2 linked regions of the Homo sapiens genome follow. The protein of the gene in region 1 interacts with the protein of each later gene in a pairwise test. Each region holds a gene or a part of one and is shown in the gene's direction. Other genes may lie near its edges.

What was found.
Region 2: the proteins of SCG3 (region 1) and NCAM2 interact in a two-hybrid assay, tested with the Homo sapiens proteins (one large-scale study listed by BioGRID and IntAct).

The regions. Positions count from the first base shown.
Region 1 is NC_000015.10:51,688,001-51,691,830, forward strand, and holds part of SCG3 (secretogranin-3 isoform 1 precursor), read left to right. Parts: intron 1-259; coding exon 260-402; intron 403-1,218; coding exon 1,219-1,368; intron 1,369-3,830. UniProt on the Homo sapiens protein: Member of the granin protein family that regulates the biogenesis of secretory granules. Acts as a sorting receptor for intragranular proteins including chromogranin A/CHGA. May also play a role in angiogenesis.
Region 2 is NC_000021.9:21,001,229-21,005,058, forward strand, and holds part of NCAM2 (neural cell adhesion molecule 2 isoform 2 precursor), read left to right. Parts: intron 1-3,830. UniProt on the Homo sapiens protein: May play important roles in selective fasciculation and zone-to-zone projection of the primary olfactory axons.

The DNA.
Region 1 (3,830 bases):
CTACTTTTCTGTTGCCTTTAGCTTTTCCTTCCTCTTATAGTCACCTAAGAAAGTTTCAGAATGTCCATTATCATACTAAGTTTTTAACATGAAGACCAATTTTATTTCAAACCGAGGGTTTCTGTGGACCGAGAACCACCATAAATACATTTCAAACATATCTGAATATACAAAAGCGAAGTACAGATTATAAGTATAATATGATGCATGAAATAGATCTATGATCACTATGGTGTGAAGTTGTGGTCGTTCTGTCTAGATGATCCAGATGGTCTTCATCAACTAGACGGGACTCCTTTAACCGCTGAAGACATTGTCCATAAAATCGCTGCCAGGATTTATGAAGAAAATGACAGAGCCGTGTTTGACAAGATTGTTTCTAAACTACTTAATCTCGGCCTTGTAAGTCATTTGGTAGGAAATAAACCAAATTCCTAGTGCAGTTTAGAGTATGCCAAGAAGCCAAGTCACTTGCCTCAAGTAGCCAAGTGTTTATAATGTGTCTTCCTTCTACTAGGACCCGTAGGTTTTAAGGACAAGCAAAGCACCATTCTTTTTTTTCTAGGAGTTTATCATCCATCAGAAGAACTAGGCAAGTAGACACACGCCCAAAATGCCAGCTGCTTAAAAACCATAAGAGCCAGAGAATAGCTTATATCCAACTGGCAGTAAGGAAAGGCTTCAGAGGAAGAGGCGTATGAAGGAAGCTTAGAGGGATGGTTAGGATATAACCAGCAGAGGTAAAAGACATGTATGTGACAAAAAAAGAAATAACATGAGCAAAAGCATGTGATGTGTATTTTTGAAACTCCAGGTGATCTAATTTGAATCCACCTCAGCTTGGCTCTTCTGCCCTGACCTGGCCCTGACAGGCTTTATTAAGATGCTAATTTTGTAGGATGTCAAAGGTTATCTGACTATGACCCAAAGCTGTGGAGGGGCAATGCTCAGGGTGTTTCTCAAAATATGTGGTCCATGGGTTTCAACAGATAGAACTAACAGCTTGCATGGTGGGCCCGAAGATACTTCTTCCAGGAGTGCTGAGCAATCCCTATAACAGCCAGCATGTGGTGCAGGCGTAAGTGAGGGCTGTCTGAAAGATGGTTCAGAAGATTCCTCTTTAAAAAATACATGTTTGACTACAGTTTAGTCCACATTATTTTTTAATAACAAGACTGGGAATATAGCAGTTATATATGTTTTGCCTTTTTATGATAGATCACAGAAAGCCAAGCACATACACTGGAAGATGAAGTAGCAGAGGTTTTACAAAAATTAATCTCAAAGGAAGCCAACAATTATGAGGAGGATCCCAATAAGCCCACAAGCTGGACTGAGAATCAGGCTGGAAAAATACCAGAGAAAGTGGTATGTATGTGTATATATGCATATGCATGGGGGTGTGTGTGTGTGTGTGTGTGTGTGTGTGTGTACTTCTATCTGTATAATAATTGCCTTACTTGATACCAAAGAAGATTTGAGGTATGTGGCATTTTTAGCCCATTTATATTCAGGCCAGACATGTTGGCTCAAACCTGTAATCCCAGCACTTTGAGAGGCTGAGGTGGGAGTTGAGACCAGGAGTTCAAGACTAGACCTGGCAACATAATGAGACCCCCATCTCTACAAATAAAAATAATTAGCTGGGTGTGGTGGCACAAGCTTATAGTCTCAGCTACTCAGGAGGCTGAGAGGAAGATCGCCTGAGGCCAGGTGTTTGAGGTTGCAGTGAACTATGATTGCACCACTGCATACCGGTCTGGGTGACAGAGTGAGACCCTGTCTCAAAAAATTAATTAATTAATTAATTTAAAAATATGTATATACATAAAATACCAAAAAGTTAAAAGATATAAATGATCTCTACTCTGAAAATAATGTAAAGATTATGTTATATTCTATTATTTGGTAAAGATTACATCTTATACCCCACAGTAAAATAATACATAATAATATGTGAAGTAACAATATCACATAATAACATCTGTGTGTACAGTCCCAGTGAACTGCAAGCAAACATCTCACAGTTCTTTTGGTATCCAACATCTGTTCACAGCAGATGTCATCATCTGTGCCCAATCCCCCCACAAAGAAGTGGGTTGACTAGATCTTCTGCTACACCAGCTTTTGTGTTCCCCAGAGCTAGCTGCCTAATGCTGCCTCTCTGTTCTTGGCAATGCTCTTCCACCTGCTCCTTCCCCTTTTCATTGGTTTAGATGCCTATTTACCCAGGCTAATTTCATCCTTCCTTCCCTTTGTTGGACTCCTTGCGTCTTCATTTTTTCCTTAGCACCAACCAAGCTGTTGAGATCTTTCTCCCCACCTTGAATTCTCTTTAAAACTTTAGATGAAACTGACCATAAGGGGATATCAAATTCCTCATCTGTCCTTTGATTTTCCTCTGTAAAGCACCCAGACCCATGGCTCCTCATCTCCTCCAGCATCTTATCTCAAATACAAAGACTATAGAGGCTGATGGTTCTGTTTTAGAGAGGAGAGAAAATAGAAATTGGGTCTGGATTTCTTTTTTTTTTTTACTGGATAGCCTAAAAACTTTCCTCTGCTCTCCTTACTTCCAATCCTCACCAGCTGCCATCTTTTAAAGCAGCTTTTGAAGATTCACCCACTCAAAAAAAAAGTTCTAGATTTATCAAAAAAAAAAACCCTTATGACTTTTGCTCAAGCTTACCAGTCTGAGCTAAAATGGACACAGCTATTTCCATAATTCTTCATTCCCATTACATACTCCTATTCACCTATCTCTAAAATGTTCATATGCTTGACCTGTTTACTCATGTTACCTGAATGCATCAATGCAAATAAAACACAAATGAAATATTATTTCAACAAATATTTATTGAATACTAACTCTGTACCAAGCACTGGAAATACCATGCCTATTTAAAAAGACATAATCCCTGACTCATGAAGCTCAAAGTCTAGTGGAAGAGGTAGATCATGTTTAAATCATCATGTATTTTCATTACAATTGCATTAAGTGCTCTGAGGAAAGAAACATGGTTCTATGAGACCTCAAAAAAGGAGGCTGACCTGGACTTAGGCTCAGGAAATGCTTCCCTAAGGAAGTAACTTGAGCTGAGAACCGAAGATCAAATAGGAGTTAACTTGTGAACATGAGAGGCAGCACATAGAGAAGGATGTGTGGAGTATCCAAGCAACTGAAACAAGCACAGTGTTGCTGGCACAGAAAGAAAGAGCAAAAAGAGAAGAGACTGGGGAGGTGGACCCAGGCCAGACCATGCAGCGCCTTATGAGCCATGGATGGACTCTGATCTTTATTGTAAGAACCATGAGAATTTTCTGGTCCCCTGAAGAATTTTAAGCAAAGGAGTTACATGATCAGATTGTTAAAAAGATAACTCTGGCTATAATGTGGAAACGCAGTATTGGGCATAGATTTGGGGAGGGTGATGTTGCAGTTAGCAGGTGAGAAATGAAGGCTGCTTGGACTAGAGTGGCATAGTGGAGGGAGAAATGTGCAAATTTGGGATAAATTTTGAAAGTGGGGCCAACAAGGCTACTGATGGATTGGATGGGGGAAAAGGAAGAAGAGGCAAGAAAGGCTGTTAAATTTCTATCTAGTTCACTGAATGGAGAATGAACCATTTACTAAGATGCAAGTCACTGAACAAAAACCAGGTCTGAGAGAAAGATTTTGTACACTCATCCAGACAGCACTTAAACTTTACCCAAAAATTCCCAGGTGTGACTGCTCTGCTAGGGATAGACATTCTAACAGGCTTTCCTGTATCCTGGCACCAGCCCTCCTGGTGGATTCTGTGAACTCAAAGCTTCCCTCTTCATTAAAA
Region 2 (3,830 bases), on another chromosome or scaffold:
GCTAACAAGGCCTAATAGTTTACTTGTAACTCTCAATACAACCTTATTGTTGTACAGTAGTAAGACGCTTTTTTTTATTGTAGCAGAAATACTCCTTTAAAAGCCTCTAATTTCCACTGCAAGATTAATGTATAATGAAGTAAGGTTAGAATGTTATTGTGAAGTCTGAATTTAATTGTCAATGAAAGAAAATGCTGTAATTCTGTAACTTTTGCAATTATTTTTCCTTTGTGTTCAAAACTTGGTCACAGGCTTTGTAATCATAAATCTCAAGTGATAACTTCAGTTTCTGATTAACTGCATTTGCTGTTTGGATCTTTGTATATTCAAATTTCCAAACTGTTGTATGTATGGATTGCTTTCGTGAGAGTTTTTACATTTTTGAAACCACTTCCTTCTTCCTTTAAAAATTAAACAAGTATGATTAATAAGCATTTTTCCTGGATGTTCACATATGTAAGATAGAAGCACTGTTATACTAAAACCTAAAGTAAGAATAATGCTATTCATCTCTCTTGCAATGCAGTTCAAACGTACCACTTAGAACACTTACCTAAGCCAAAATCGTGAGGAAAGGAGGGGTGAATTGCCCAGTTGATCAGTTAAAGCAGTCATCTGCTTACAGTTATTCTCTTTGGTGAAGTGCTAGTAAGTCATTGTACATTACAGCAATGTACCTTCTAAAAATAGAGCACAGGTGTGTGAGTGTCTACTAGTTTGAAGATTACAGGAGAGAGCTCCACAAACTCATCTTCTGTCGGGGCTGTTACATGGCTCCAGCCTCTCTCGTATGCTTTTTCTATCTGCTGTGCTCTAATTCTTTGATATCAGCCTCTCTGTGCAAAGTTTCTATTAAATCGACTGGGTCTTCTTTTGCACTTGGGGAAGATGTAATGTAAAGGCTAATGTAAATTAATATCTTTATTGTCAGAGTAACCCAGAGGATTTCCCTCACTACTTCATATCAAAGGAGTTAGGCAGAGTATTTTCTCACTTTTAATGCAGAATCGGAGCCCATAGAGCAAGAAGGGAAGTTGGTGGGTCCCGAGAGTGTCAGATGAGTCTTTTCAATGACACAGGGAGCTAATTTTCTCCCCGAGGTACTGTCCTACTAGAGAAGCAATTAATGGAACAAAAGAACCTCATTCAGTACCAAAAGTTAGACTTCATATGATTTTGTAAATAGAATGGCCTTCTTTCAAAAATAGGACTAGTTTGCAATGAAACTGAGAAATGAGCTACAGAGATTGAGGCTAGTAACCAAGCTGAACAGTGTAATTTGTTTTTGCCTGTCCTCGTGTGGAAGCAGTGCAAATAGTAACAGGATCGACAATCTGAAGACTCTGGAACTGGTCCTCCTGCATTCTCTGTCTTTTAACATTTGGGAAATCATTGTAACTTATCTCTTTTCAGGGTCATCTCTCACAGCAATGAATTTTTGAGAGCATGAAGAAAAGTGCTCAATAACTATAGAGTGATTCTAAATTGCCCTATTTCCCCCCAAAATGAAATTAATCCCTTGAGTGTTGATATGTGCAAAATTAATTTAATAATTTGAATATACTTCTGAAGGGACTATCATTGTTTTTCAAATTTTGTTGTCCTAAATTTTAAATTTATTGTTCCCTTTATACAATCCCAATTAAACTGAGGATAGGCCTATTTAAAAGATTATAAATTTGTTTTAATTTTCCAAATTACATGATATGAGAACACTTTAAGATGCAACCAGTGCTTTTATGCTTTTATTAAATGTAAAATTCCTGCACTTTATAGAGCCAAGCTATCTCTAATTGTTCAACAAATAAAAGTGCTTCTCTCTGGTGCTCTTTTAAATATTTTAATAACTTTTAACAATTTACAGTTATAATAAGAGTACTAATCACAAATAGATATCAACATATTTCCTAGTTTTCTATGTTCACTTGTGCCACTAAGGATCCATCAAACATTACCAGACATTTTAGAAAGCTGTGAAGTAATGAAACATCTTGAATTTAAATCAAGATGTTTGAATTTAAATCATTAAGAAAGATAATGGGGAATTTTGAGAATATTTATAAGCATGGCAATCAAAACATTATAGTTTGAAGAATTTCAGGTCCATTGATCAAATCTTTCTTGGCTCCATTTGATTTATTACAACTCACAGGGATGAAGAAAATTCATTGGATTTGGAGTCAGAAGACCTAGGCTACTAAGAGTCTCTTAACCTTGAAGAAGCAACTTATGCTCTTAGAACCACTATTTGCTTATTTGAAAATTTGATATTATAAAATCTGGCCAGTTGACCTTGATGCTCGGCCATGAGGAGCAATTGTAACAATAAATATGTGTAGGCAGGCACCTTACCAAATGTCAACCCTACTATGCTAGGCTTTGTTTATATTTTTTAATAATGTGTATACAGATTAATTTGTGGCTTATAAACATTTATTTAGTTTTAAAAAATCATCATAAGCTGCTCTGTGATTAGAAAAAAATATCAAGGGGACAGAGATTACTTAAGTTATTGATAAGGGCGACTCATTCATCATTTATTCATTTATCTAACATTTACAGAATACCTGCCCTGTCCCAGACACCTCATTAGACAGCATTACTAGGAATGGTTGCGTAGATTGTGTGAAGAACAACTCCAGGGGGCGTCACTTATTGTCCTAGTGATGCAACACATATTTATTTTTACAATTTGCCAGCAGATGGCAGTAAAAGGTTTTGAGGAATGATGCGCTTTTTTTTGTATCATGAATCCTTTCTATGGACCAACATCAGGCTGGTGTTAAACACCAAGAGGCTTAGGATGGGCACATAATGAAGATAAATGACTTACTAAAGATCAAACAGAAAAGTAAAAAGGTTAGTTACTAGAGCTCCAGTCTCCAAACTCTTCAGTTCTCCTAACACCAAACTTGTTCATAGATTTTATTTAAATGAATCTAATATATCTTCAGCTCAAAGTAAAATATATTTAAATTCTGTGCCATTTTGTCAGATAATCAAATAACAAGCACTTTTTGAGGCCTTAAAATGAGAATATTATCAGCACCTTCTAACAGTACCGACCACTTGTGCGAAGTGCTTTCAGTCACCTTATAACTTATGATTACCAATGAGTCAAGAGACAATTAGCTTTGTTTTATGGATGAAGAAATTGAGGTACAGAAGAATGATCCGATTTGCCTATATCACTTATTTTTGTAGTTATCTGGAACTGGGAGTAGATTTTCCAACTTCCAGTTGCATACCTATTTTTGATATATTGTTGATTCATTTGTTTAAAAATTTGCATGTGTGTGGAAAATTCAATGTTGATAATTACAAAAACAAATAATATAAATTTAAAAAGCCAAATAAGCATGAGGGAGATATATAACTTGTTCAACAAAATATTATAAAATGACAAAATATGTCATATAATTAATTAAACACTAAGTAGTCTGAGTCCTTAGCGGTTTAGTGCCTAGAATGAGCTAAAATTGATTGTGTTTACTAACTGACAGGCTCTCTTATCATAATCCTCTATTAGCTTGTTATTATTACGATTATCGTTCCTTTATCCATGAGGGCCATGAGATACAGGGAGTTTAAATAACTAAGATTGTACTGCTTGGAAATGAGGGTTTGCATATGGGACATGTCCAAAGCCTAGCCTCTTACCAGGACATCACCTTGCCATTCAGTGAAACAGAAAGGGCTTCAATATAGTGAGAGTAAATGGAGAAGATTATTAATACAAGGAGAAAAAAAATGAGTGAACAAATTGTAAGAAGGGAGGGGCGCGTTGAGAGAATAGAAATAATCCAGTTTAATGAATCCAAGGATTCACT